Linked DNA regions of Homo sapiens. The protein of the gene in region 2 purifies or fractionates together with the protein of the main gene of each other region. This does not show direct contact. Each region holds a gene or a part of one and is shown on either strand. Other genes may lie near its edges. The genes, in order: IARS1, CREM, GCN1 and NAA15.

The links.
Region 1: the proteins of CREM (region 2) and IARS1 purify together in Homo sapiens (affinity purification with mass spectrometry, with the first as the bait; one study listed by BioGRID). This does not show direct contact.
Region 3: the proteins of CREM (region 2) and GCN1 purify together in Homo sapiens (affinity purification with mass spectrometry, with the first as the bait; one study listed by BioGRID). This does not show direct contact.
Region 4: the proteins of CREM (region 2) and NAA15 purify together in Homo sapiens (affinity purification with mass spectrometry, with the first as the bait; one study listed by BioGRID). This does not show direct contact.

What each region holds. Positions count from the first base shown.
Region 1 is NC_000009.12:92,281,729-92,289,551, forward strand, and holds part of IARS1 (isoleucine--tRNA ligase, cytoplasmic), read right to left. Parts: intron 7,699-7,823; 5' UTR 7,692-7,698; coding exon 7,573-7,691; intron 6,555-7,572; coding exon 6,398-6,554; intron 6,246-6,397; coding exon of another isoform or gene 6,183-6,245; coding exon 6,063-6,182; intron 4,891-6,062; coding exon 4,808-4,890; intron 4,112-4,807; coding exon 3,994-4,111; intron 1-3,993. UniProt on the Homo sapiens protein: Catalyzes the specific attachment of an amino acid to its cognate tRNA in a 2 step reaction: the amino acid (AA) is first activated by ATP to form AA-AMP and then transferred to the acceptor end of the tRNA.
Region 2 is NC_000010.11:35,176,389-35,184,211, forward strand, and holds part of CREM (cAMP-responsive element modulator), read left to right. Parts: intron 1-2,483; exon of another isoform or gene 2,484-2,500; coding exon 2,501-2,598; intron 2,599-2,745; coding exon 2,746-2,888; coding exon of another isoform or gene 2,889-2,941; exon of another isoform or gene 2,942-3,459; intron 3,460-7,823.
Region 3 is NC_000012.12:120,134,184-120,142,006, forward strand, and holds part of GCN1 (stalled ribosome sensor GCN1), read right to left. Parts: intron 6,841-7,823; coding exon 6,676-6,840; intron 4,674-6,675; coding exon 4,512-4,673; intron 4,233-4,511; coding exon 4,140-4,232; intron 3,862-4,139; coding exon 3,718-3,861; intron 3,632-3,717; coding exon 3,362-3,631; intron 3,137-3,361; coding exon 3,023-3,136; intron 2,550-3,022; coding exon 2,319-2,549; intron 544-2,318; coding exon 350-543; intron 223-349; coding exon 108-222; intron 1-107. UniProt on the Homo sapiens protein: Ribosome collision sensor that plays a key role in the RNF14-RNF25 translation quality control pathway, a pathway that takes place when a ribosome has stalled during translation, and which promotes ubiquitination and degradation of translation factors on stalled ribosomes.
Region 4 is NC_000004.12:139,306,282-139,314,104, reverse strand, and holds part of NAA15 (N-alpha-acetyltransferase 15, NatA auxiliary subunit), read right to left. Parts: intron 1-7,823. UniProt on the Homo sapiens protein: Auxillary subunit of N-terminal acetyltransferase complexes which display alpha (N-terminal) acetyltransferase (NAT) activity. The NAT activity may be important for vascular, hematopoietic and neuronal growth and development.

The DNA.
Region 1 (7,823 bases), on a different chromosome or scaffold from region 2:
GAAAAAAAAAATCAATCCCCAACAAAAACCAACTGCAATTTAAATAAAGTGACACGAGAGCCATTAGTCACATGTAAAACATCAGACAAACTTGAAATAAGAGACACTACTATTGGCCTGTACCTCCTCAAATATGTCAGTATTATGAGGCATAAAGAGACTAAAGAGCTCTTTAAGATTAAAGAAGGCTGGAGACATACCACTGCATGAAGCACACAATGTAGGTCTTTTTTGTTTTTCTTTCCTTCTTTTTTTCTTGTTAACTATAAAGGACACTGCTGGGACAAGCAGAACCCAATAAGATCTACACATGAGGTAATACAGCATCAATGTTAATTTTCTAACTCCAGTTATTTCAAACAATGTTACTGATTTTAGGAAATATATAGTTTTTAGAGGAAAAGGGCCATAATTCCTGCAACTTACTCTCAAAGGGTACTGTGCCCCACTCCCATAAAAAGAGAGAAGGATAAAGCAAATGTGGTAAAAGGTTAACATTTAGGGAATCTAGTTGAAGGATATAAAGAACTCTCCGCTTTTCTGTGAGTTTGAAACTACATCAAAATTAATTTTTTTCTTTTCTTTTTTTTTTGAGATGGAATCTCACTCTGTCACCCAAGCTGGAGTGCAGTGACGTGATCTCAGCTCACTGCAACCCCCACCTCCCAGGTTCAAGCATTCTCCTGCCTCGGTTTCCTGAATAGCTGGGACTACAGGTGTGCACCACCATGCCCAGCTAATTTTTGTAAAAAATTAAAATTTTTTAGCACGGTGGCTCATGCCTATAATCCTGGCACTTTGGGAGGCCAAGGCAGGAGGATCGCACAAGCTCTGGAGTTTGAGACCAGCTGGGGCAATATGGTGAGATCCCATCTCTACAAAGATAAAAAAATTTTCTGGGCATGGTGATGCACATCTGTGGTCTCAGCTGCTCAGGAGGGTGAGGCTGGAGGATCACTTGAACCCAGGAGGTCAAGGCTGCAGTGAGCTGTGTTTGCACCATTGCATTCCAGCCTAGGTGACAGACTGAAATCCCTTCTCTAAAAATAAATAAATAAAAGTTTTAAGCCAATACATATATATGTATACTTACATATATACATACACACACATATATATATATATATATATATTTTTTTTTTTTGAGACAGAGTCTAACTCTGTCACCCAGGCTGGAGTGCAGTAGCACACTTTCGGCTCACTGCAACCTCAACTTCCTGGGCTCATGTCATTCTCTTACTTCAGCCTGTGGAGTAGTTGGAACTAAAGGTTCACGCCACCACGCCCAGCTAATTTTTGTAATTTTAGTAGAGATGGGGTTTTGTCATGTTGCCCAGGTCGGCCTCCAAAAGTGCGAGGATTTCAGGTGTGAGCCACTGTGCTTGGTCAAGTCAAAAAAATTTTAAAAACCCTTGGTTAACAATCAATATACAGACCGCGTAGAATAGAGGTCAGCAAACCATGGCCCCTGGGCCAAATCTGGCTCATCACTTGTTTCATACAGTGGGTGAGTTAAGAATGGTGACAAAATTGAGAACACTTTGCCTGAAAAGCCTAAAATATTTAATTTGCAGAGGAAAGTTTCCCAACCTCAGTATTAGAACTAAAAATTAAGTATACTCTGTGACTCACCTGGGCGTGGTGGCTCACGCCTGTAAAAATACCCGCACTTTGGGAGGCTGAGGCAGGTGGATCAACTGAGGTAAGGAGTTCAAGACCAGCCTGGCCAACATGGCGAAACCCTGTCTCTACTAAAAATACAAAACTTAGCTGGGCATGCTGGCGGGCACCCGTAATCCCAGCTACTCGGGAGGCTGAGGCAGGAGAATTGCTTGAACCTGGGAGGAGGGTGCAATGAGCCAAGATCACACCACTGTACTTCAGCCTGGGCATCAGAGTGAGACTCCGTCTCAAAAAAATAAAAATTAAAACAAAGTATACTCTGACTCGATAATTCCACTACTTGTTATATAACCAACTGAAACGTGTACAAGACCTAAAAGACAACAGTCACCATGTGTTTAAGTCTTGGTAGATCCTGATTTAAAAAAATAAATAAATAAAAATAAAATATAACCCCTTGGGAAATGATTAAACCATTAGAAATATGAACTGATGATGTTCAGGAATTACATAATTTGAGAATATTAAAATAAAAACTATTAAAGGTGGCTAGGTGCAGTGGCTGACACCTGTAATCCCAGCACTTTGGGAGGCCAAGGCGGGTGGACTGCTTGAGCCCAAGAGTTCAAGACCAGCCCAGGCAACATGGTGAAACCACTCCTATAGAAACACATAAATTAGCCAGGTATGGTGGTATGTTCCTGTAGTCCCAGCTACTCAGGGGGCTGAAAGGGGAGATCACTTGAGCCCGGGAGGTCAAGGCTGTGGTTAGCCGAGATCGTGCCACTGCACTCTAGCCTGGGTGACATAGCGAGATCCTATCTCAAAAACAACAACAACAACAAAAAGGTAACTGCTGATGACTTTTTAAGGTGTGACAACGAATGCTAACATGGCAATGTTTAAAGAAGATAAAGATTATTTATGAAAGATCTATACTGGATTATTTCTTGATGAAATAATATGATATCTGGAATTTGTTTCAGAATTGGAAGGAAAGTGGGAAAGAATATGTGTATGAATGAGGCAAGATTAGCCAGTCATTGGTGCTGGGGGCCTTAATGGGCCTACAGAAATTAATTATACCATTCTGTTTACTTTTGCATGTCCCTGAAACTGTCCACATTCAAGTGTTTTAAAAAACAACCAAACAGGCCGGGCGCAATGGCTCACAACTGTAATTCCAACACTTTGGGAGGCCAAGGTGGGTGGATCGCAAGGTCAGGAGTTCAAGACCAGCCTGGCCAAAATGGTGAAACCCTGTCTCTACTAAAAATGCGTGGTGGTGGGCACCTGTAAACCCAGCTACTCCAGAGGCTGAGGCAAAGAACTGCTTGAATCGGGTAGGTGGAGGTTGCAGGGAGCCAAGATCGCGCCACTGCACTCTAGCCTGGGCGACAGAGCAAGACTCTGACTCAAACAAACAAACAAACAAAAACCAAATATAGCAATATATTAAGATTTGACAAAGGTAAGCCTTGGAAACCTTGTGTTTACCATATCATTCTCTACATTGTTAAGTGCTTAAAATATTTTACTAAAAAAATACAAACATGAGCACAGAGAGGTGGTAAGGAGATAATAGAAATCATCATACCTGCCTTACAAGGATTTACAAAGATCAATCAAACAGGATATGTGAAAGCATTCTATAAATAAAACGTGCTTTGAAAGGCAAATTTTACTAATGTAATTTTCAAACCTAGGCCATGAAACAAGAATTCCAAACAAGTCAACATCCTTTAAAAACAGAGGGTCAGATAAACTCTCAAAACTGAAAACAACTCAGTATACACACGAGAAGAGATGGTTCACATTTCAGAAGACTTACTAGTATATAATATCTGTCTAGATATGGTATAACAATACACTCTGTAAACATCAAACATGTCTAAACACCTCAATCATAGCAACAACAACAACTGATTCTATCTCATCAGAGGAAAAATAATACCATTTGGCATCTCAAATTAATTTTTTTCCAAATACCGTTAACAAATAAATGATATCATGAGGTCCCAGATAAGGCATAAAATTACTCAACCCTTAAGAAACGATGACTACAGGAAGTATGTCAAAGCTGGACTTGTTAACCCAACAGAGAGGCACAAAAATATGGTCAAAACAAGCAAAACCTATCACATTAAGACACATCATAAATCCAATGTGGAAAAAAAATCCCTCATCTTAACAGAGCCTTAGTATACTAACTGGCAATATTTCCAGCACTCAGTAAGAAGTGGTCAAAGTGGTGGATGTCGTGGGCAACATTCCACACTGGGTCTACTTGGGAATACCTACTGTGATCATAACTACTCAGCTTCCACCTACAAAACTCAATGCTGAATAATGTCTCTACATTTCACGTACCTTATAATTCTGGTGTGACTCGAAGTTGGAAAGTGGAGTGTTACATGCCGTAGAGAAGGGCATGACTTTCACACCTCTATAAACAAGGCCTTTATCATAGAGTTGTTTGAAGACCCACCTGGTAAGAGATGGAGTTTCACAATTACAGAACAAAATTCTATTTCTGAAAATGCAAACATTTATGCCATTTTCTTTTTAGAGTTTCTGTCTGCCAAATAAGTGAAAAAACAATGTCTTTCATTGGGAGACTGGCTGGTAAATTATAACAGATCAATATAGTAAGACATCAGGCAGACATTAAAATGCTAATATCTACTGATATCGAATGATATTTAACACATAATGTTAAGAAAAGCAACTGGCAGGCTGGGCGCAGTGGCTCACGTCTGTAATCGTAGCACTTTGAGAGATCAAGGTGGATGGATCACCTAGGTCAGAAGTTCGAGACCACCCTGGCCAACAAGGTGAAACCCCATCTCTACTAAAAAGACAAAAATTAGCCAAGCATGGTGGCGGGCGCCTGTAATCCCAGCTACTTGGGAGGCTGAAGCAAGAGAATCGCTTGAACCTGAGAGGCGGAGGTTGCAGTGGGCCAAGACTGTGCCACTGCCCTCCAGCCTGGGCAACTGAGCGAGACTCAGTCTCAAAAAAATAAAAATAAAAGTTCTACATTCAAAAACAAACCTGTTCCCAAAGATTTTCAGAGAAATAACGATGGACTCAAAAATAAACTGATTCATGCTAGTGCATTTTTCCAATTATCAATACAACAGAATAGAATATTTACCATATTTACAATTTTAAATAAACCTACCAGACTGATTCCATGAATTGTGGATACAGAGTTTTATAGTCATTGTCAAAGTCAATCCATCGGCCAAGTCTGCTAACAGTAGACTTTAAAATATTAATATTAGAACAGTATTAGACAATGATATTTATAATTGTACATCAATGTGTGTTTATTTCTGTTGTCATCACAAATGAAAATTTTGGGAAAACAGAATAATCAATGGTACAAGTAAATCTATACTGCCAACAACATATTATGTAAGGTTAAGAACCAGTTTTCTCGGCATTCATCCTACATGCACAAAATGTTATTTACAAGTATAAATATTCACTTATAAAAGTCTACCAAAACCACCACTTGGCAAATATCACAGGCATAATTATTACTGGCAAAAACCATCCATGGATGTTAAAATTAATAAGTGAATGTATGACAAAAAAAAGAATATTTGGAAAGAATCTCCCCACAAGATACTTATTAATTACAAAGGAAAAACTACAACTTTACAAAGCAGAAAGCTGACAGCACTTTAACCAAGTGAACAAAGTTATCACCATCAATGTGACATAGCCGCAACACATGCCACCTGATATAATGCATTGAGAAGGGCATAGCATCACTTCTGTGGCATTGTCACCAAAAATGCATAACCTAAATTAAATCAGGAAACCTCACACATTGAGAGACATTATAGAAAATAGCTGTTCTGCAATCTTCAAAAGTGAGAAGGCCATGAAATACAAAGGACTAAATAAATGTTCCATACTTAAGAAGACTAAAAAGACATGACAACCAAATGCAATATGTGATTGGTCAGAAATAAAAATTAATGGGGCAACTGCTTTTGAAAATTCTATTAATATTATGGTTACCGAAGATGTTAGCAGCTGGGAAAGATGGATGAAGGATATAGGGGAACCCATCATACTACTTTTTCAATTGTTTAATAAGTCAAATTATTTCAAAATGAAAAGTTAAAAAAATTGAAAAAAGTATTTGAGAAAAAAAGAAAAGGCCTATATATCATGTTATACTTATTAGAATTTTTCCCTATTGGTGATCATGCAAGAAAGTTAGACCAATTAAGCACACAGAAGTCAGAAGAGAGATGGTTCAGTTTAAGCTAACCGTTTAAGTAATAGGGTTGAAGGTGGAAGCTAACACTTTTTCTACAAAAAATAAATTAATAAAAAAAGCACAAGGGACCATAAACCATTTCAATGCCCATTTAGTAACTACATTTGCTGTTCATTCTACTGAAAAAAACCCAACATACCTTCCACTCAGCAGAATATCTCATCACAATTGCTCGGCACTGATTGTTATACTCTGTAATCCCCATTTTGGCCACATCCTCTGGTCCTCTGATTCCCAGTGTCTTATCAATTTCATATTCCTGAAAATTTGTGATAAGACTGTTACCACGCTGCCCTATGAAAACAACTGCAACTATGCAACTCTAGAAAACAAAACAAATCAAACTACAAATATTATAGAAATGAACTAGAAGGTCTGACAGTCAACGTTCATCATACTTGAACATATTATATGACAAAATCTAATGCTTATAAAAAAAATCAGAAAATTATAAAGCTGGATACTCAAACATACCACAGGTAAGCCATGGCAATCCCATCCAAATCTTCTGTCAACATGAAACCCACTCTGGTGAGCATATCTTGTAACTATATCTTTAATTGTACCCGCAAGTATATGTCCATAGTGAGGCAGTCCAGTTGCAAAAGGAGGACCATCATAGAAGGTAAATCTAACAGGTAATAAAAATATATCAAGCCATTTAAAAACAGCCAAAATTTAAGGCATTTTTCTATAGATAGCTCTTGTCATAGTGGAGTCTTCAAGGAGAAAAGCAGCAAGATCAGGAAACCGACAGACATAATTGATTTGATATTTACTGGTGGTCCTGCCTTCAGAAAGGCTACAATTGTGGTAGAGCTACAGAGACCTCCATTTGATTATCCATTTTTCATTTATTAGTTCCATGACATAAGGCAAATTATTTATCCTGATCTTGAGTTATCTCATCAGTAAAATAGGGCAATAAACCCCTATCTCATAGTTTTTGACCAGAGGAGACATATAATGAAAACACTGATTAAAGGACTAGTCTTTTAGGTGAATGAGGACTAAAGGCAGGTAGTACTATAGTAGCCTTCTATGGGGTACTTAGGTATAAGTGCCTAAACGAGGGTGGTGATGAAAATAAAGGTGGAAAGAGGGTGACACGGAGGATGACACATAAATTTTACTCAGATGACCTTTTAAAGAAACAAAATTTACCCCAATAATTGAGAACTCATTCATTCAATGTATATCTACTACTGAGTACCCACTACATAGGGAGCTGGGGGATTCTGGGAATAGAAAGATTAATAAAGAGTATCTGCTTTAGGCCGCGCGTGATGGCTCACACTTGTAATCCCAGCACTTTGAGAGGCCGAGGTGGGTGGATCACTTGAGGTCAGGAGTCCGAGACCAGCCTGGGCAACATGGTGAAACCCCGTCTCTACTAAAACACAAGAATTAGCTGGTGTGATGGCGGGCACCTGTAATCCCAGCTACTCGGGAGGCTGAGGCAGGAGAATCACTTGCATCCGGGAGGCAGAGGTAGCAGTGAGCAGAGATTGCACCACTGCCCTCCAGCCTGGATGACAGTGCGAGACTCCATCTCAAAAAAAAAAAAAAAAAAAAAGTATCTGCTTTAATGGAATTCAGTCTAAGAAATGACTATTCTTAAGGGAACTTAACCTAAAAAATTCACATACTTTGGTTTATGTTTTGATTGCTTTAAGCATTCCTGAAAACAATTAAATTCAGTCCAAAACTCCAAGATTTTCTCTTCTTCAGCAGGAAAATTTATGTTTTCTGGAACTTGTTGAAGCATTTTGTTGCTGCAAAAGAAATCAAATTTATTACTGTCAAAAGAGAAATCTAGGAATAACAGAGTACCATATTATTAACATGGGTGTACATGACACTATCCATACTTTTAAAAAATTACAGCTTTATTGATGTA
Region 2 (7,823 bases):
CTGTTTTCTTTTTTTTTCTTCTTTTTTTTTTTTTTTTGAGACAGAGTCTCGCTTTGTCGCCCAGGCTGGAGGGCAGTGGCATGATCTCGGGCCATTGCAAGCTCCACCTCCCGGGTTCACGCCATTCTCCTGCCTCAGCCTCCCGAGTAGCTGGGACTACAGGCGCCCGCCACCATGCGTGGCTAATTTTTTTTGTATTTTTAGTAGAGATGGGGTTTCACCGTGTTAGCCAGGATGGTCTTGATCTCCTGACCTCGTGATCCGCCTGTCTCGGCTTCCCAAAGTGCTGGGATTACAGGCGTGAGCCACTGCGCCCAGCCAGTGCTGATGCTGTTTTCATGAATAATCACCTTAGTAGGTAGATATAAATTTATAATCACCTTAGTAGGTAGATATAAATTTATTTTAAATTCGGTATACATAATTCTTGGTAAGATGATATTATTAATGTATCCCTCTCGATTAAACCTTGGCTTTTGTAGATATGATTATTATTGTGGTTGTGATCCAGAGATGTATTTTACCCTTAACATTTCTTGAAGTTAAAACATTTTTTCCATCAATAGATGTAAATTATTAAATATGCATTTTTTAAAGTATGCATCTTAATTACTGAATTTATTTTTGTTCATTTTTAAGGTCAGTTATTATCCTTTAAATGCTGAAATTATTTGAACCTAATTGATGACAAAAAAAAAAATCTGTGAGGAAAATGGAGACACGTATACATAGTATAGTCCTTTTCTTGCGTGTTCAAGTAGTTTATCACAGTAGAATGATAAGAGTGGCGACAAGATACCTGATGTGACAAATTCACATACATTAAAAGCTTGATTATCTTTGTGGCATGGGTATTTTCTCCTGTGTTTCCCAGAAGTGTAAGAATAATTCTCATCATTATCTTTTTTTCCTGTGATGGCCCCTGATTCCAAGAGTTTCTAATTCTTTCTGACACTAATTATAAAACAAGAAAGTCTTTCCAACCTCTTCTTTGTTTTATGACTTTTATTGAGGTCCACATATTTCTACTTAGTTTTAACCTGGCTGGTATTGGAAGAAAGTATTGTCTATTATTATTATTTATTATTTAATAGAGACAGAATTCTCAGTATGTTACCCAGGTTTGTGTTGAGGCCCTGGCCTCAAGTGATCCTCTTGCCTCAGTCTTTCAAAGTGCTGGGATTACAGATGTGAGCCACAGCACCCGGCTGAAAGAAAGTATTCTGTTATATTCAGTAGACTTTGTTTGGATTTTGTTAAGTGAACGATTTAATTGTCCTTGTAGAAAGAGGTGCCAGTGGATCTTGTCCTAGAATACTTACGTGTTGGATCATGGTCAAGCCACTTAATCTCTGTGCATGAACTTTAATTTTCACCTTTCTAAAATAGGTAAATTAATAGCCTACCTCACCTAAGGGAGTTGTTATGATTCTATGACAGATGTGTGACAGCCCGGTGTAAAATGATAAATATTTAATATTTGGTGGTGATATATGATTATCTGAGGCAACAACATTTTTCTCAGTCCTGTTGATTGGGTGTGTGTGCTTATGTGTGGGGCGTTCATGAGCAAAAACACGAGTCATATGTGGAGGTGAATATACACCTCCGTGTACTTCGGGAAGTATATATTCTTGCTTGCATTGTTGATATTTTAATAAGCTCTTTTGATTTTGTCCAAATCAATTTCCCATGTAATTATAATATGAAGTGAGTTTTGTAAACTCTGCTACCCTAGGCCCTCAAAGTATTAATAATTGACTGAATATATCAAAATCAGTCATGTTGTTGAAGAGATTCATTATTTTAGTTTTCTGACTTCTTTAATAATCATATCACTGTATTATTACTTGACTTGAAAAATGAAATCATGCTTAAAACTCTGATCTTTCTCTTAAGGAGAAATGCTTTATTTGGATCTTCAAGACCCACCGCCACCAAGCCCTAACTTACTCCTTGTAATAGAAATCCTGATTTTACCCAGGCTTGCTTACTGACTTGCTTATCTACTTAAATATTCTGTCTTGGGCCTATCTGATGGCTAATGTGAAGACCCAGCTCACGCCAGCGCCAGCTGTGAGAGTGTGGGAACAGCAGTGTGATCCGGGAGCTCTCTTCTGCGTTGGCCCCTCGCTGGCTCCCTCCTGGATTCGTAGGAGCACTTTCAGGTTGAGGAGCTTAGGTCTTGGGTATTTTACATTTTGTTCTTTCCTGCAATGCCTCATTTGACATCCCAACCACTCTTTCCCTAGTATTTCTGTAGTATAGAGTACCCGTAACATTCCTTTCCACACACATTTGTTTTATAACTGAAATGTTTGCGTCTGCGCTTCCTTTCTTGAGCCAGACTCCTTCAGTGCAGATTCACTGTGTTCTATTGCTCAGTTGCTTCCACAGCTCCTGGCTCAGTGCTGCACACACAGACTCTTAGCCTCAATTTTTTGAATGAGGGAAAAGAGCATATATTTTATGATACATTTCAGAAAATCTTGTATTATAGGTAGCAGCAATTGCAGAGACAGATGAATCTGCAGAATCAGAAGGTGTAATTGATTCTCATAAACGTAGAGAAATCCTTTCACGAAGACCCTCTTATAGGTAAGTTAACCAAGTTTCCTAATGTAAAGATACTTTTTCCAAAATGGTAGAATAATTATACATCAAATCAATTCTTCCTTTATAGCTTTTCTGTTTTAAGACTTATTCATGTATCTTAGTGACTTACCTTGTTAAATTGTATTTTAGGAAAATACTGAATGAACTGTCCTCTGATGTGCCTGGTGTTCCCAAGATTGAAGAAGAGAGATCAGAGGAAGAAGGAACACCACCTAGTATTGCTACCATGGCAGTACCAACTAGCATATATCAGACTAGCACGGGGCAATACAGTATGTATGCTGCAATTCGATATGATACAGTGCTAGCTTTAAGTCTTCTCTAGTTATATTGAAGCAACTCAGGTTTTGGCATTAAATTGTTCCATTTTAAAATGCATCATTAATACCTAAACTGTATCATAGAATGAAAGTATATGTTAAAAAGTGAGATCTTTGTATTGACAGCTGTCATATAATTTTGAAAAGTAAAAATTTTGACTGCCGAATATAGAAGAAAATTTTGGGGTAAAAAGGAGAATTTTTCCTATTTACATGTTTATATTAATCTCTAGTAAAACATTGTTTTTGTTGTCTTTATGATGCATGCGAACATAAATGTCTGTATTTCATTCTTGTTGGCTTTTGTTACCCACAATTACATACTATTCTTACTAATCTGAGAGTTTTCTAAAGTATGTTTTCAATGTTTCACTACTCTCTACTCTGTTAATTTGTGCTACAGTTTTTCCTAAAAGAGAATGGAAAAATGATTTAATTTTTTAAACTGTAGCAATTGGATAGATAATTTTATTTGAAATTTTACACACTGAAAGCTCTAAATAAACAGATACATTCACATTCAGTCTTGTGCATTTTAATGGACCGTTAATTCTGTGCTTTTTGCTCTGATTAAAGCACTAGTTTTTTTCCCAAAAGAAGAGTGTTTGATACGTAAAAAGCAAGAGCTAGAAAGAAAAGAAAAAGGAGGAGAAAGGTTAGGGATATCACATATCCTAAGCTAGCCCCTTAGGTACTGGAATAATGTGATATTCCTGTCCTTTCTGAAGTATAAATTGTCCATGGAAGTTGTCTAAATCAATTTCCCATGTAATTATAATATGAAGTAAAGTGAGTTTTGTAAACTCTGCTACCCTAGGTCCTCAAAGTAATTGAACAAATATATTGACAGCAGTCATGTTGTTGAAGAGATTCATAATTTTAGTTTTCTGACTTTAAAAAGAGCTACTTAGGTACTGGAATATATGTGATATTAAATAATGTGTTTATCCAAATAAGGTATTAAGATTTTAGATATATTCTTTGTTTTTCCTTTAAAAAGTAGCAATACCAAGAAAAAAAAACTCAAGTCTTAATTTAAGTCCTGACTACTAAAACAAGCTATAATCTTTAATGTATGAGAAGACTTTATATAGTCATTATTTTTGTGGAGCTTTTTAGAGTTTTTCTTGTAGCAGTGGTAGATTTGCAGTAGTAAACTATTAAATACATTCTCTGTTGGTAATTGAGGGGAACTCCTACCATGATACCTAGCAGATCCGGGGTGTAGTGTATTCACACGTTTGACAGGGCACCCAGTAGACTTGTCCAAAGTCAGTGTTAGGAAAAGAAAATCCCCACCATCTGTAAGAAATAGACCTTGAGGTTTACATTGTCATTTTTTTATTACTTCTCTCGTTTACATGCTCTTTTGTCTGGCACACTGGGAATCTCTGGTGGGTTTTAGAACTGTAAAACTGAATATGCCAGCTGATGAGCCTCTACAGCACAGCACGCAGGTTATGAGAGTGCTGAGTGCCTCGTCCCCCCGTCCCCAGAGGGGCTGGGCAGAAGCTGCTGGCGCCTCCTGGCTGGTCAGCCCTGGCCTTGAGCAGCTCCATCCACTCACCCCAGTGGGCTGTACACATGTCATCATGTTCTGTTTGTGTAATGACAGGGAAAAGGTTGGAAGTGACTGCTGAAATGACACTAAGACTTCTCAAAGTGTTGGGAACCACTAAGATGCTGTCATCGTAACATTTCTCTGGCATATGCTAATGCTACTTAGGACTTCTGATAGAAGCAGTGATTCCTTTACAAGTTGATAGGGAAGCAGATGCTGTAGGGTTAACTTGTCTAGATTATTAGCTGAAAATTTGAAATTGTGAAAATGTATGGGGTTGAAGCTGGAGAGGATGTGGAAGGAACCATCTTTGTGCCATTTGCAAACTCAATGATCAGAGCAAGAAGCTTTATTAAATTCACATCTCAGGTTTTAGTCTTTGAAGTGGGAATAATACTAAATTGCCAAACTCTGGGGTTCCTGTGAAGACAAAGGAGATAATGGGTAAAAGTAGGGGGAAAAAGACATGCTACTATTGGCATGAAACAGAGAAATTAAGTTAGGTGTACCATTGTCTCATTCATGTTCATTGAACTTTCCCTCCAGCCAGCCCCAATGGCTTCATTCCCTGTGTCCTTGGTACCTGCTCACAGCAGGGGGCTGGCCTTAAACCTCACTCTGTGTGTCTGTGGGGGGGATGAGAGGAGCAGAGTCAGGAATTTTGGTTGAGAACTAGAAAACTGCATCTGTAGAAATTAGATCTTAGGCCAGGTGTGATGGCTCCCACCTGTAATCCCAGCACTTTGGGAGGTCTAGGCAATGAGGGTTGCTTGAGGCCAGGACTTTGAGACCAGTCTGGGCAATAGAGTGAGACCCTGTCTCTACAAAAGAATTTTAAAAATTAGCAGGGTGTGGTGGTATGCGCTCATCCCAGCTACTCAGGAGGCTGAGGTGGGAGGATTCTCTGAGCCCAGGAGTTTGAGGCTGCAGTGAGTTATGATTGCACCACTGCACTGTCCAACCTGGGCAGCAGAGTGAGACTCTGTCTCAAAACAACAAACAAAAAAAACACATCTGTCTATTTGCCACATAAGAGGTCATGGACTATTTCTTACTTTGGTTTCTTAATTTGAGTCTATACAGTATGATCCTAGAAATTATTCTGATGAGAAGTTATAGTTCTGTATGTACAGTCTGCAGGTAAAAATTGCCATTTGTTCACACAATGTGAATTTCTTTTGTTAAAAATGCATTTTGGGGACATTTAGTGAAATATATGTAGATAATTCTTTGAGAAGTGAATACTAACAACATTCAAACTTTTTAGAAGACGTTTACTTTAATTGGAGGGTAAACATACTTACACACACAACATCCATTTTTATTGATCTTATTTTTTATAGAACTAACTTAGCAGATATTAATGCTTTAATGTTGTAGCAGAATGTCTAGAAATGGAAACAATTGCCAGTTTCCTTTGGTTTTTGAATAGAGGAACGTATTTTATTAGAATTTCTGGAGATTTTCCTATTTTTTTCCTTCCCTTTGAGCTGTAAATTTTTTTTAATGCTCTTTCATAACCTTTTATTATAAAAAAAAATTTTAGGTTTAATTGTTCAGCTTTTATCCATGGATGGCTTTCTCCCAAACTTTGCTTTTATTTCTTTTTTTCCAATATTTTATTAGTTATTTTTAATTTGGAATAATGAGTTAGCTGGTGTTTAAAAGAACTAAATGTGTATCAAAGTTGAAGAAATAAAGTATATTCAAGTTTTCCCATATACAAGCAGTTACATTTTTAATAGTTGAAAGATATTTGGCAGAAGTTGGCCTTATTATATTGACTTACTATTATCACAAAAACTAAAAAGTGAAAGTTGGAATAGGCTGCTCCCTGGGGAGTAGGAAAAAGCATAAAATAGACAGGGATCCATTATTACAACACCAAGTAAGTGAGCTGTACCTGCAGAATCCTCACTGGAAGTACAGATCTTAGTGATAGGTGTGTTGCATAACAGTTGAGCTGGTCGAAGAAAGTCTTTTATTTCAGAAGCATATACCCGAGAGATGGCGGGAGAGAGACAGCCTTAGAATTAACAAAGAATGTTACTTGCTGCATGAGACAGTTAAGATAGGCAGTAAATGAGTGAATTTGTAAAAGCAACCGAGGAAATTAAAATGTTTGAAGCTTCCTAATTCATTAAATTTCCTCTTGAAACAAAGGTTACTTAAATCCTCCATCCTACTATACCCAACCTCTTCCTGTACCAATTAAAGACTATCACCCAAGACTTCAGTTTTTTTCCCACAAATGGCCCTTGTCTCTGCTTGTGCCTATTGTATTTTACGAGGAATCTTATTAGAGTATTAACTCATCTTTCTGGAATTCTTATACATGAAAGGTAAGTGGGTCAATCTAAACTGCACCATTATGAAAAGAAAAATATGAACTTTGTGGACTCCTTATAAGAATTCAGAATTCTCAGGAGGCTCACGAATAAGCACCAATTCAACTTCTTCATAAAGGGAATTAGAACATAATAGGCTTACACATTCGAAAGTTAATCCAGTTGCAGTTCTTAATAGTGACGTTGTTTACATTTCTCTAAGGCAACTGTTTCAAAATTTTTTAAGGCACTACTTAATGTAACTCTGGCTTTTAAACTTTGATGTTGCTATTGTTGTTATAGCATGATTTAGTCTTCCTTCTGCTATAATGCACCTCTTGGCTTTTAAGGTACAAGTACTCATAGGTGCTCTCTTATGGTCACTCTGAATTTAAACCTGAGAATTCATTGGAACAAAGGTCTGTTTGCTGCTGTTTTTAAAGTTAATGCAGTGAGATTTCATTTATGAATCTTTGGATTGCAATTTGGAACAAGAGTGGTTTTAAATATAAACATTTACATGTGTATGTATTTTAATTAGCTCATGTGTATAAATTTAGGATTAGAAGTATATAACATGGGCCGGGCGTGATGGTTCACGCCTGTAATCCCAGCACTTTGGGAGGCTGAGGTGGGCGGATCACCTGAGGTCAGGCATTCGAGACCAGCCTGGCCAACATGGTGAAACCCCATCTCTACTGAAAATACAAAATTAGCCGGGTGTGGTGGTGCACACTTGTAATCCCAGCTACTTTGGAGGCTGAGGCAGGAGAATCGCTTGAACCCAGCAGGTGGAGGTTGCAGTGAGCTGAGATCACACGATTGCACTTCAGCCTGGGCGAGAAGAGTGAAAGTCCATCTCAAAATAAATGAACAAATAAATAAATAAGAAGTGTATAACATCGCCAGGCTTGGTGGTTTGTGCCTGTAGTCCCAGCTACTCAGAAGGCTGAGGCAGAAGGATTGCTTGAGCCTAGCAGTTTAAGACCAGCTAGACCA
Region 3 (7,823 bases), on a different chromosome or scaffold from region 2:
TTACTACTGAGCTGTACTGGTTCTAACACAAAGTGAAGAACTCAACCTAAGGAGGAGGAGGGAAACCAGTGGTCCAGTGCTGCCACTAGTCCTGCCTGCAGCCGTACCTCATCGTGTCCCAGCATGCTCAGCAGGAGTGAGACGATGTTTTTCCGGATGACGGCATCCACTTTGGCCCCTGCTCCCTGAATCACAAACCTCAGGGCCTGCAGCATGGTGTCCCTGCAGAAGCAATGCACCGCCTTAAGCCCTGGGTGCCTCCACCACCACCCCTCCTGCCAGCGCAGGCTCGGCCCACAGCAACCCCTGGCCTCCTGGAGGCCACAGTGCTCCCTTGCCAGCGCCGTACCTGACACCTGGGTCCTCCATGGCGCGGATGCCATTGAGCAGCTCTGTGAAGAGGGGGTCCACCTTAATGTGGATGGAAATGAGCTTCCCCAGAGCATCTGCGGCCTTCAGGCGCACCCCCCGGTTGGAGTCCTGCAGGGCTTTGGTGAAAGTGGTCTGCAGCTGGGGCAGGAAGGGCTTCAGGGCAATCCCAACCTGTGGGAGGAACCCACATCCATGAAAGACAGTTGTGGTAGACCCAAAGCCACAGTGTACCACAGGCATGAGAACAAATGACAATCCCAAACCACCACAGCGAGTCCAGCTCTCATACAGGGCTGGGGACAGATAGCCCGTCAGAGAGGCCAAACACAGACAGGTTTCGCTTGGCCTCCTGGTCATATCCAGCATGCTTTGATACACTGGAGGAGCAGGAGGCCGAGGAGGCGGCGGCCGCTATCTGAGGGAGCTGTCTCGCAGCCTTGGCTGCGTTGGGGTTTGGCTTAGTGGAGACCTGTCCATATCGATAAGTGACTCAAATCCTCCTCTGAATACATTAACAAGCAGGGCAGACTATCGGCAGTACTGAAGCACAGTTCTAATGCCAAGACAGGGAAAGGGACTCAGTGTATAATTGCAGAGCCCATCTACTGAGCAACTGACAGCAGGATACGCACTCCACATTCAGCCCTCAGAACAAGCCTGTGAAACAAATGACCTTGGAGAATCCTCCCTGCACAAATGTGTACCCACCTAACTAAAAATCCAGTTCAACCCCTGACTATACAGAAACACAGGCACACTTTTGATACAATACAGGTGGGTCCAAGAGTAAAGATTTACTTACTGTTTTTTGTTTTGTTTTTTTTTTGAGACGGAGTTTCGCTCTTGTTGCCCAGGCTGGAGTGCAAGGCGCGATCTCAGCTCACTGCAACCTCCGCCTCCCGGGTTTAAGCAATTCTCCTGCCTCAGCCTCCTGAGTAGCTGGGATTACAGGCACCCGCCACAATGCCCGGCTAATTTTGTATTTTCAGTAGAGACAGGGTTTCTCCATGTTGGTCAGGCTGGTCTCGAACTCCCGACCTCAGGTAATCTGCCCACCTCGGCCTCCCAAAGTGCTGGGATTACAGGCTTGAGCCACCACGCCCGGCTTACTTATTGTTAATTAGGAAAACCAGAGTGACTGTTTGGAGGTTCAGTGCCAATGAAGGTCTGGAAATACTGGAGTTGGGTGGGTGTGCAGGCTGTGGCAGGCACACAAAGGGGATAGGGGGAGCTGGTAAATCTGAGCTGTGCGAGGTCAGGAGTTCGAGACCAGCCTGGTGAAACCCTGTCTCTACTAAAAATACAAAAAAATTAGCCAGGTGTAGTGGCAGACACCTGTAATCCCAGCTACTTGGGAGGCTGAGGCAGAAGAATTGCTTGAACCCAGGAGGCGGAGGTTGCAGTGAGCCGAGATCGCGCCACTGCACTCCAGCTCTGGGTGACAGAGTTAGACTCTGTCTCAAAAACAAAACAAAACAAAACAAAAAACAAAAAAAAACAAAAACTGCAATATCTTTAAACAATGTTTTCCTTGTATTTACGTGGTCCTGAATTTTTTCCTTTGAAAAAGTAGTTTTTCAAAATAATAGCATTTCACATGTACTGAGTGCTTAGTATGTAGCAGGCATCATGCTGGACATAACCTCATCTAATCCCCATATCTAGCAGCCCTTCATGAGGCAGCTGGTATTATTAGTCTCACATTGTAGGTGAGGAAACAGGCTTAGGTTATATGGCTTTCCCAAGGTCATCCTGGTCACAGAGCTAGTAAGGACGACTTGGAATTGACCCATGGTGTAGCATGTCTGAAGTCCAAGGTCTTACCTCCCTCTGCTATGCGGCTCTCCACAATAAATCTGTTGCCCTGCTGCTACATGACACCTTGTATCAGGCTCCTGCAGACAGACCTGTTCTCTAAGATCTGAACAAACTCATCAGCCACTCACCTTAGCCAACAAGAGGCTGAGTGTCTCGAGCAGAGCCGCCTTCACATTCCAGCTGAACCTGTCCCCCAGGATGCGGATCAGAGGGCCAGTGATGCTGACCACGGAGGGCCTCAGGGCGTCAGCCGAGGTCAGGCGGATTACCAAGCCTAAGGCTTTGGCTGCCTCCTCCTTCTGCTCAGGGCTGCCAGTCAGGACTCCTTCCCGCAACACTGGAAGGATGGAGGTCACTCCCTGACAAGAGAACCACAACTGAGAGTCAAATCTCAAACACCCTGGGCCCTGGTGTCTCCCATGCAAGCAAAGTGGTCCTGACAGCTGTCCTCCCCTCAACTCCATGGGAGATATTGATTTGGGCTGAATCTCAGGATCACAGCCTGAGAGGGCTGGCTATGGAACGGTCTTGGCAGAGAAAAGACGACAAGGGCCCCAACAGGCCTATCACACAGAGAGAACATGCACTGCTGTTACCCTGTGGCCCACTCACTCTGGCCAAGGTGACCTGCAGAGCTTAAACCAAAGGCAGCATGAACCCTGTCCCCATCTGACTGCCATGGAAGAAAACATGCTGTCTGCGAAGGTGCTGAACACCAACCACCACGGCTACTGCTCCAGCAGCCCCTACCGCAGACCTGGGACAGGGGTAAGGGCCAGAAGGGCACAACAGACTGCACGCCCACAGCCCCCTGCACGAGGCCCTGGCTTACCTTCTTCGGGAGGCAGAATCCTGGCACATGCTCGCCTTTGCTCTCGTTCCCTATGAGCCGGATTTCCTTGTGCAGCTCTTCAATGAGTGCCAACTGGTTGCCAGCATCCAGCTTCTGCAGGAATCCAGGAAAAAGCGAGAGGATGTACAGCCCTCTCAAGACTGCTTCCAAAGAATATATGGGGAAAGCGTGGGCGGGAGTATAAACAAGACTTGCCACGAGTGGGTAAACGCCGAAGCTGAGTGACAGGTACGTGGGGGATTCTTATAAGTCTATTCCTGTAAATGTCTGGAATTTTCTAAAAGCAAAAGTTGGCTGTGGGGTCAGCAGTCCCCTCACCTTAGTGATGGCATTTAGGGCATCCCAGCTCTCCTCCAGAACCACAGGGCTGGAGTCATTGAAGAGGCGGATCAGGCCCGAGACCAGGCTCCGCAGGTGGCTGGTGTAGTCAGCCTTTGAGCGGGAACAGTAGATGTTGAGGATGATGGCAGCAGCTTGCCTCATGCCCACCTCAGGGCTGCGGGTGGCCTCCAGCAGATCCTCGATGATGATCCGGTGCCCTGTGTCATCCTCTACGGAGAGGATCACAGCCTGACAATTGGCCATCTCCTGCAAACCACAAGGGACATGTGTGCTGAGCAGGGATCCTCCGGGCAGACGGGACATGAGAAAGCAGGAGCAGGCTCGCCCCTTACCAGCTGCTCATCTGGGGTCCCAAGCTTTTCCTTCAGGGCCAGCATGACCGCTGGGAGGATCACGCCAAGATGACGGGTGAGGGCATCACCAGCCACTGACGAAAGGAAAGCCAGCACCCGGGTGTTGACAGGTGGCGTTGTCAGCTGGTGGAATGACAAACATTAACTCAGTGAATACTGTGCCAGGTGCTGCGCTAGGCTCTGGGAACAGACGGGTGGGCAAGAGAGCCCAAGCCCACTGCTCAGAGCCAAGCATCTACTCCAGCATATCTTGGAAGACAACAGGGGAAGGATGTAATGCTTGCACTGCACCCTCCTCCCCCAGCCCTCCAACATCTACGTTCAGAACTGGTCTTCACTGCAGGCCCTGGAAATGTCAATGCCCTGGAGCCAGAGGGTGTTGACCACATGTTGGGATTTACCTTGGGCACAAGGTAGGGCAGCACCACACGACTCTTAATAGCCATGACTTGCTTCAGACCATCCAAGGCAAACTCTGACACCTCCTCGTCATCCTGCAGAGGGTGTTGGGGACAACCCTGAGGAATCTGCATCTCTGCTGTCTCAACCAGCCACCGCCAACTTCCTTCTCCACTTGTTTCCCTCCCTCCTGTTGCACCCACATTTCCTCACTGCCGAAGGCGAAGCACAAAGCCAAGTCTGATCTTGCTATACCCACTCCCTCTGGAGGGCCCACATTGCGACTGCCTTGGCAGAATAATCGCCCTGTATTTTCCATCTACAAAGACGGCAAAAGCCAAACTGGTAGGTAGGTGTGTGGTAGATCCACTCACCAGCTGCTTTAGTAAAAATGGGAGAATGTCCTCCAGAGCCTGGTGGCCGATGGTGGAATGCAGCTGCTCGAAAGTCTTGGCTGCCGCCTCTCTGACCTCCTCCAGTGGGTCACACAAAGCCTTCCTTGCCGTGGGCACGAGGGATTCAGAGAAATACAGCACCTGCAATGGCAAGCTACAACTGTACCAGATGCAGGAAAGGCAAAGAAGGAGCAGAAGCAGACAAGAAGCACAGGCAGGGGACTCTGACCCAGCTAGGCCACCCTAACTCTCTTTGCCTGACTTGTCTTTTAACTTAACTCTTTACTGTGAAATAAAAAAAAGGAGAGAAGGGGCCGGGCACGGTGGCTCACACCTGTAATCCCAGCACTTTGGGAGGCCAAGGTGGGCGGATGACTTGAGGCCAGGAGTTCGAGACCAGCCTGGTCAACATGGCAAAACCCTATCTCTACTAAAAATACAAAAATTAGCTGGGTGTGGTGGTGCACACCTGTAATCCCAGCTACACAGGAGGCTGAGGCACAAGAATCGCTTGAACCCAGGAAGCAGAGGCTGTAGCCAAAAGAGATGGTGCCCCTGTACTCCTGCCTGGGCAGCAGAGTGAGATTGTCTTAAACTAAAAATTTTAAAAAAATTAAAAAGTAGAGAGGGGCCGCGCACAGTGGCTCACGCCTGTAATCCCAACACTTTGGGAGGTGGAGGCAAGAGAATCACTTGAGGCCAGGAGTTTGAGACCAGCCTGGGCAACATAGTGAGACCTCACCTCTACTAAAAATGCAAAAATTAGCTACGTGTGGTGGTGCACACCTATAGTCCCCAGCTACTCAGGAGGCCATAGCGAGAGGATCACTTGAGCCCAGAAGGTCAAGGTTACAATGAGCTATGATCGCACCACTGCACTCCAGCCTGGGTGACAGAGTAAGACCCCGTCTCAATAAAAAAAAAAAGCAGAGAGGATGTGATGCACCCCCATGTATCCTTCACTGAGACTTAATAATCAACAGCTTGAATCTTTTAGGTGAATTCTCAATATACCTCCCATCTTCTCTAAGAACTGCAAACTCCTTCCCATGGCATCTGGCCCCCTCTCTCCCTGGACTCTTTCTTTTGCTTATTCTCTTGGAAAACTCCAAGTCCTTCTTCAAGTCTCAATCCAGACTTTGTGCTCTATGAAGTCTTTGGGTCTACAATGGAGCCAATAATGGCTCTGCTCCCTCAGTAACGATCCCAGCACAGCAAAGCCCACTCTGCATTCTAATGACTGGTTGGCATGTGGGCCTTGCCATTGGACTGTGGGGACTTTGCAGACAAGAACTCAGCCTCTGTGGAACTCTACCTCTCCAATGAATCACAACTCTTTCTGATGACAGAATTTCTTTTGATTCCTTGCCAAATGTAAATTTTAAAAACCAAACGTAAGACAAACATCAATATAGGAGAAGAGGGATCTGGTATCCTAGGAATTCAGACAAGGATGCCCAAGCCAAGCAACTGGCCACTTGCTTACATTTCTAGCGGGCCATCCACTTAATTGCTTTGGCGTTTTCATCCAAACACGAAGGCAGTGCCTAAAAGCACTCCTAACCTACTCCCCAGGGTGGTCTCCAGGATCATTTAACTCAGGAACCAAGTAAGAGTAATGGACTTCACACCCCTTGAACGTTGCTGCTATGGAAACAGTATTGTTGCCAGACGCAATATGCTTCCTCCCACCTGGCACCACAACTCTTACCTGCTCCCCTCCTGCTAAGGGTGAGTGCACACCCCCTCCCGCACCCTCCTGCCCTACCCACTCACACAGCTGTCCATCCCCTTTCCCAGAAGGAGGTGCACACATTTTAACTGGACTTATATAGCATCACAAAAGAGACTGATCCTGAGCAACCTCCACAGTTGTAAGAGAGCGATCATCTCCAGTTTCCAAAGGCCACTCAAGGAGGCATCCAAATCACTTAGCTCTTAGCCTGCAAAACTGACAGGAAAGCTGAGAAGACGGAGCCTCAAGTCCATGTGGCCCAGCCAGCACCTCCCCAGAGTGAGACTGGCTCATCCCTGAGGGCAGCACAAACCCCCTAGAGGTGAACCTCCTTCAGTAGCCCTCCCCCGCCCTCTGAGTCAGGTCGTCTGCAGTGCACAGCTGGCGGGATCCTTGGAAGATACTCACGGCATCCCGGCTGGTGGACTTCATGATCTCACTTAGGCCAATGCACACACCCTGCCTCTCATCGCTCTTCTGAGACCTCAGGCCTTCCTCAAGGATGGGGATGATCTCGGGGAGGATTTTCTCCCCTAACTTCCGCACAAGATCTCCCAATGTTCTCGCTGCAATCTGTCAACAGAGACCAATCCAGGAAGTAAAGTCCCTGCAAAGCCCAGGGCACCCAGAGGAGGACTCCAGAATGAGGGCCCTGAAACCTCCCAGGCTTTATCTGAATCACTGACTTAACTTCCCCAAATGCTCTTACCCCTAAAGAGCCCCCAAATACTCTCTGTAGTGCTTGCAAAACACTACCAAAAAATTATCTGTTTCACACACACCTACACAACCTAACATTAAGAGCCAGCAGCACCTTACACATGTACAAAAAATTCATCATCTGCTGCACAGTCAAGGGCCAATTTCCCTGGATGACTGAAGCCTTAACACTGTGCTATGGCTGAGCAGGAGCCGAATCTGGAACAAAGCTTTAAGGAAAAAAAAACATCTACTTTCTGAGACCTCATGCAAACCCTTCTTTAGAGCCAAATACACAATTTGCTTGCCAAGGATGGGGGGTTGGAAGTAGACCAAAGGAGATGGGCAGAAATGATCACCAGCCCATCTGGGCACCTCCTCCAGGCCCACTGATCTGTCTGCCCCTGCCAGCGCGCCAGCCTGATCTCATGCCGCACTGCTCCTCCCTGCCTCCTCACTCCAGCCACACTGGCCTTGCTCAGCCCCTACTGGTGCTATGTTCCTGCCCACCACGGGACCTCTGCATATCCTGTCTTTGTATCTGAAACATTATTTATTCCCTCTGTCTGGAATGGTCTTTCGCCACCTCCTCACCTGGTTAGTGCTTACTTATCTTTCATCTTCCAGCATCATTTCTTCTGAGAAGTGTTCACTAACACAGGCCCATCCCTCCCCAGCAGGTCAAATGCAGCTATTATAAGCATTTGCAGTGCCATGCAGCACTGGCCACAGTCGCATTTTACATCTCTTTGTGTGGTTATTTGATTAATATCCATCTCCTCGACTAGACTACCTCTCATGAGGATAAGGAATGAAGCTGCCTTTCTTCTCCATTGTGTCCCCAGGTGCTAGGCCCC
Region 4 (7,823 bases), on a different chromosome or scaffold from region 2:
CAAGGTAAAGTGCAATATTTACATCATAGTATTATGTATTTGTTAACCATTTAACATATGTAAAACAGTACTACCATTTTAAGTTCTTATCTTTGTTTTTAATCTGTCACTAATAATGTTTTTTAATGTTGTGGTCAAACTCATTTTCCCCATAAGCCCTGTGGTTTTTATTGCGTGATTTTGCAAAGCGCAGCGACTTTTAGGAATCTCCATGTCCCGATACAGTGGAATTACCTGTATATAAAGCATTTAGAAATATACTGTAACAGGCCGGGCGCGGTGGCTCACACCTGTAATGCCAGCACTTTGGTAGGCCGAGGCGGGCAGATCACCTGAGGTCAGGAGTTAGAGGCCAGCCAATGGAGAAACCCTGTCTCTACTAAAATTACAAAATTAGCCGGGCATGGAGGCACATGCCTGTAACCCCAGCTACTCGGGAGGCTGAGGCAGGAGAATCACTTGAACCAGGGAGGCGGAGGTTGCAGTGAGCCAAGATCACGCGGCCACTACACTCCAGCTTCGGCAACAAAAGCGAAACTCCGTCTCAAAAAAAAAAAAAAGAAAGAAATATACTGTAACAATGTAGTCATTAAGTATTGGCTATACTTACAATTTCCTTAAGGGAGTGTCACAAAGTTTATATCAGCTAACATGTAAAAAGTCTAGCATAAAATCTGGCTCAAAATAGATACTAAATAAATACTGCTTTGCTTAATGTTCCCCTTCTTAAAAATTCTAACTTGGTCCTCAAACATTGATAATTAAAGGTAATCTTGTACTACCCAACAAGTTCTCTTTGAAAAATAGAGTAACATTTTAAGTGTAAGCCATTTTAGCCATTTTATTGTGAGAGGAAAAAAAAGTTTTTGAATTTGAACAGCAACCATGTGTAAAAGGAGACAACCAACCAAGGCCAGGCTTTTTTTCCCTAGGTCTACTGTTTTTAAAAGCAAACTTTCACTTCTCCTTTTATGTAATCAGATAAAACAACTCTTACAGATGCCACTCAGGAATGTTTACATAATCTCCTCTGTAATAAAATCAAATGGAATCTTTAAAATTAAAAATAATACTGGCTTCAAATAATATTATTTCCCCAAGGTGTTTCAGTAGAAATTTCACATTATTTCAACTGAAGATTTGTTCATATTATACTAACCAAAGAAAGTGCAGTAGAGCCCATCAGATAACAAAAACATCAACCTGTCCATCATTTAATTCTTACACTGCAATTTTTATTTTACTTTTTTTTTCCCCCCCAGACAAGGTCTCATTCTGTCACCCAGGCTGGAGTGCAGTGGCATGATGATAGCTCACTGCAGTCTTGAACTCCTAGGCTCAAGCGGTCCTCCACCTCAGCCTCCCAAGTAGCTAGGACTACAGGTTTGCACCACCACCACATCCAAGTAACTTTTTCATTTTTTACAGAGACAGAGCCTTGCTATGTTGCCCAGGCTGGTCTCAAACTCCCGACTTCAAGAGATTTTCCACATTGGCCTCCCAAAGCGATGGGATTACAAGCTATTTTACTTCTAAATAACAAGGAAAGAAAAGATTGCTTTAGTTAAAAGTGTAAGGGATTATTTTAATGCCATATTAAGTAGTGAACAATATAATTTCCTATCTTACCTAGGAGGAAAAAAACCACAGGCAACAAGTTAGACTAGTGTTCTTAAAGTTACAACTTTAATACAAGTTTGTACAGCATGTATCATAAAACAACTTAGATGTTTAAGCCTACAGCTGGCATTTCAGGGAAATTTCCAAAAGTCAAGAATACAACCACAGCATAAAATTCCTTCCACACCCTAACATTTACACTGAGAACTATTACTGAATTTAAGCCTCTTCACTCACCCTTCTTACTATCAGAATTGGCAACTGACATTCTTTTCAGAACTATTTCTCACTAAGAATCTTAAGTTTGTCTCCTCAACAGGATATTGCCTGTAAATAGAGAGCAAAATTGTATTTAGATATGAATGCTGATTGCTGGCTAAGCTCACTGTTATGTGACTTGTTCTCTCTTCCACATCAGCTTCCCAGCATACCAAGAATTAAACTTGATTTTTAAATTTTCTGAAAAACACAAAGCAACTCTAACACTACGATTACTTTCCCTCAAATTTTTTTTTTAAAGAGATAGAGTCTCGCTATGGTGCCCAGGCTGGAGTGCAGTAGCAATTCACAGGCGCAATAATCACAAACTATAGCCTTCAACTCCTGAGCTCAACCAATCTTGCTGCCTCAGACTCCTGAGTAACTGGCATGCACCCCTGCGCCCAGCTCTTCTAACATTTTATATTTTAAATTTTATAACAGGTCTATTTCTTAATATCATATATAGTGGTCATCAACCCTGACTTCGTGTCAGAATCGGTTGTAAAGCTTTATGAAATGACGTATGGCTGAGCCCTACTATCTGAAGATTCTAATACAGCAGCAGGCTCCTCACAACAAACTCATTTAATCCTGATACCATTTCTCCTCCAATGCCAAAACCAAAGAAACAATAACAAAATTTTCCTCTTATTATGCTTTTGTGATGAAAGGCTATATAAACAAATACTATAATTCATTTATAAATTAAACTTCAAAGTCTTACCATAATATAGGCTCTGCCCAATATCCTACAATTATTTCATACACTAATGTACTCTGTAATGCCAAAGCCCAGCTTAACTCCCTTCTCCAAAAATTTATGCAAGCACACAATCCAAAGATCTTTTTCTCTCTTGCCCTGTAATCACTATTTTCACACTCACTTCACATAACAAATATTTATTAAACATCTACTATGGTACATCATTTTAACCAATGTGAATAGAGCCATTAACAGACGTCCTTATCTTCATAAACCCTACATTTTAATTGTGGAAAACGTGATAAACATAAAAGTAAATGTATGTCAGAAGCTGATAAATGAGAATAAAGTAAGAAATAAGAAAATAAGGTGAGAAGGACTGACTGCTAGCCAAGGAAGGTCTCTAAATAACATTTAAAGGACACCTGTTTAGCCAGGCATGGTGGCATGTGCCTGTAGTCCCAGCTACCCAGAAGACTAAGGTGGGAGAATCGCTTGAACCCAGGAGACAGAGGTTGCAGTGAGCCGAGATCACACTACTGCACTCCAGCCCTCCAGCCTGGGCAACAGAGTAAGACTCTGTCTCAAAATTTTTTAAATTAGGCCAGGCATAATGGCTCACACCTGTAATTCCAGCATTTTGGGAGGCCGAGGCAGGTGGATCACCTGAGGCCTGGAGTTCAAGACCAGCCTGGCCAACATGGTGAAACCCCGCCTGTACTAAAAATACAAAAATTAGCCAGGTGTGGTAGGAGGCACCTGGAATCCCAGCTACTCAGGAAGCTGAGGCAGGAGAATCACTTGAACCCAGGAGGCAGAGGCTGAAGTAAACTAAAATTGTGCCACTGCATGCTAGGCTGAGTGACAGAGCAAAACCCTGTCTCAAAAAATAATAATAAAAATAAATTTAAAATTAAAAATAAAGGACATCTGAGCAGAAGTCCTAAAACAAATAAGAAAAATGAGTCACACAGGTATCTGGGGGAGAAAATTCTGAACAGTCCTTTGCATATGATCCTTTATACGACATAGCTTTTTATGTCCAAAAATGTTTTTTTTTTTTTTTTGAGACGGAGTCTCGCTCTGTCGCCCAGGCTGGAGTGCAGTGGCGGGATCTCGGCTCACTGCAAGCTCCGCCTCCTGGGTTCACGCCATTCTCCTGCCTCAGCCTCCCAAGTAGCTGGGACTACAGGCGCCCGCCACTACGCCCGGCTAATTTTTTGTATTTTTAGTAGAGACAGGGTTTCACCGTTTTAGCCAGGATGGTCTCGATCTCCTGACCTCGTGATCCGCCCGCCTCGGCCTCCCAAAGTGCTGGGATTACAGGCGTGAGCCACCGCGCCCGGCCCAAAAATGTTTTTATGAAGAAAGAAGATATATTTGAATCAATGCTCTGTCAGAACTTCATTGTCAGAAGCAGAAATATTAAAAGATATAAGACTGCACACTAAGGAGAGGGATCCCTTCAGTTGAGGCCAGCTGGACAGTATCTCTCCAGTCCCCCAATCACACCGAGCACCATGCCCGCCCCTCTGGAAACTGTTCATTAACCAGCGCTCCAATAGTTTGGATGGCAATTCTATTATCATCAAATAACTAGTTTGAGCCCCAATAATGACCCAGGACTGCAAGACTTTGACACATCTAAAAAATGGAACATTAAATTCAGTTCCCTTTTAAGCTTTAGTCTGCTTTTCTGAAAATATAGTGTTGTCCATCTACTACTATTGAAAACTGAACTGTGGTCACTCTGCACAAACAAGTATTTTTAACCCACTCTATTGACGCAAAAGAATTTTTAAAAAATATTTTTTAAAACATTTCAGGTTTCTAACACAATACAGAATTTTAAAAATATATGCTGTCAGTTTAAAACAAAAACATATATTTGTTCATTCATACTGCATCTCACTCCAGAAAGACAAAAATTAAAAAGTAAGCAAACAGGCCAGGCGCAGTAGCATGTACCATAATCTCAGCTACTTGGCAGGCTGAAGCAGGAGGATCACCTGAGCTCAGGACTAGCCTGGGCAACACAGTGAAATCCTGGACACACACACACACACACACACACACACACACACACACACACACTTAAAAAGCAAGCAAAGAATAAATTTACCACATTATTAAAAGATTTTCACTTCTCACTAGATTTTTTTTTTTTTTTTTGAGACGAAGTTTCACTCTTGTCCCCCAGGCTGGAGAGCAATGGCGCGATCTCGGCTCACTGCAACCTCCACCTCCTGGGTTCAAATAATTCTCCCGCCTCAGCCTCCCAAGTAGCTGGGATTACAGGTGCCTGCAACCACGCCCAGCTAAGTTTCGTATTTTTAGTAAAGACGGGGTTTCACCATGTTGGCCAGGCTGGTCTCTAACTCCTGACCTCAGGTGATCCACCCGCCTCAGCCTCCCAAAGTGCTGGGATTACAGGCGTGAGCCACTGTGCCCGGCCCTCACTCGATTTTTACAGAAAAATCATTTTGTAATTTTTATAATAATTATATACACATTATATACACATATATAAAATAGCAAAACTGCATTTTGTTTTCTGGTATACTTTTAAGGGATAATTTATCCGAGTTTAAATTTACGATTACCGGCAGGGTGCGGTGGCTCACGCCTGTAATCCCAGCACTTGGGAGAGGCTGAGGTGGGTGGATCACCCGAGGTAAGCAGTCTGAGACCAGCCTCGCCAACATGGCGAAACCCTGTCTGTACTAAAAATATAAAACTTAGCTGGGTGTGGTGGTGGACACCTGTAATCCCAGCTACTGGGGAGGCTGAGGCAGGAGAATCACTTGAACCTGGGAGGTGGAGGTTGCAGTGAGTCGGAGAGTGCAGTGAGCTGAGATCACGCCACTGTACTCCAGCCTGGACGACAAAAGTGAGACTCCATCTCAAAAAAATAAATAAACTTATGATTAACTACTAAGAGCTGAATGGGATTTCAGAACAGACCAAACTTTGTTTCCATTTTTTGATTTTTTGTTATATTCTAAATATATGAAGTACAAGCAAAAGTATATTAAAACCAATTTCAAAGTTACTGTCCACTCTTAGTTGCAAAACTGGAATTCTGTCACAAAGAAATTAATCAGTTAAACTTTCATGTGCATATGGACACCTACTTGCTAACAATTCCTAATCTAAATTTCATCAGCAACTGAAGCTAAACTAAGTATCATTAACTAGCAGAAACATTAACTTTCCCAAAGAAAATAAATCACATAAAATAATTTACCTATTATACAATGGGCCGGGCGCGGTGGTTCATGCCTGTAATCCTAGCACTTAGGGAGGCCAAGGCGGGCAGATCAGGAGGTCAGGAGATCGAGACCATCCTGGCTAACACGGTGAAACCCCGTCTCTACTAAAAATACAAAAAATTAGCTGGGTGTGGTGGCAGGTGCCTGTAGTCTCAGCTACTCAGGAGGCTGAGGCAGGAGAATGGCGTGAACCCGGGAGGCAGAGCATGCAATGAGCCGAGATTGCACCACTACACTCCAGCCTGGGCAACAGTGAGACTCCGTCTCAAAAAAATAATAATAATAATAATAATTTACTTATTATACAATGTATACAGCCACCTAATAAGTATTACTACTCCTTTGCCTAACAATTCCCTCACCCTCCTCCTACACCCCTCCCCTAAATAGTTAAACACTAGGCAGGTGTGATGTTAAGTGCCCTGAAAAGAAAAAAAGTTTTATTCCAGACTGTAACTAACACTAGCTGTTGACCTTAATCTCAGTCTGTTTGCTTAATAAAAATGTCCCCACCTTGAAAAGTTTTGAGAATTAAGAAAGGACTCTAAATAAAGCATGCTGTGTCCAAAACGGTAACCATTCACCACATGTGACTATTTGAATTTAAATTAAGATTAATTAAAAATTCATTTCCTCAGTTGCACTAGCCATATTTCAAGTGTGCAATAATTACATGTGGCCAGGCCAGGCACAGTAGCTCACATCTGTAATCCCAGCACTTTGGGAAGCCAAGGCAGGAGGACTGCTTGATCCCAGGAGTTCAAGACTAGCCTGGCCAACATGGCGAAACCCCGTCTCTACCAAAAATACAAAAATTAGCCAGGCGTGGTGGCACGCCTGTAGTCGCAGCTACTCGGGAGACTGAGCTAGGAGGATAGCTTGAGCCCGGGAGGTGGAGGCTGCAGTGAGCCGTGATCAAACCACTGCACTCCAGACTGTGTGATAGAGTTAGACCCTGTCTTAACAAAAACAACAAAAAACAAACCTACACATGGCCAATGGCTATCATATTAGAGCAGATAACAAATATTTCCATCATCACAGAAAATTCTACTGTGCAGTGCTATTCTAAAGCACCTAGAGCAGAGCCTGGCAAATGGTAGATTTCTCATTTTACCTGGCAAATAGTGACAAATCACAAACATAATCATCATGCTATTTTAACTTCTCTCACCACTTTTCTAGGAAAGAAAAATTCTGTCCTTTAACACTTACAACTAACAATTTAAATCATTCAGGCTAAAGTCCAAAACTACATTTATTGATGTACAATATTTTAACTATTCCCAACTTAGATTTTTCTTATAACTGACATTAACATTTGAAGAGCAAAAAAGAGAGAAGGAAGCAGCAGCAACAGCAACCAACCTACCAATACTTGATTGAAAGGCATTAGGATATGTCCATCTTTTCCAAGCAGGTTAAAATCTAAGGTGTGGATTTTGTTCTACTCTGGCAACCTCATTTTTCCTACCCTTAACCTAGATCCTAACAAAGTGGTATAAATATCTGGTAACCTCCTCAAACTTTTAGATAAACAAATAGCATCAACAGTAGGCAAAGGCCACAATTTTCTAATGACTTAATTTTCCAAATAAGTTAAAAGTTTGTAATTACAAACAAAACAAAACAAAACAAAACAAAAAAAAAACCAGACCAAAAAAAAAAAAACCAGCTTCTGGCAAACACAAGTCTTCCTTAAACTCTTACATAGGACCAGGTGCAGTGGCTCATGCCTGTAATCCCAGCACTTTGGGAGGCCGAGGCAGGCAGAACACTTGAGGTCACTAGTTCAAGACCAGCCTGGCCAACATGGTGAAACACCATCTCTACTAAAAATACAAAAAAAAAAATTAGCCGAGTGTGGTGGCAGGCGCCTGTAATCCCAGCTACTTGGGAGGCTGAGGCATGAACCCAGGAGGTGGAGGTTGCAGTGAGCCAAGATCACACCACTGCACTCCAGCCTG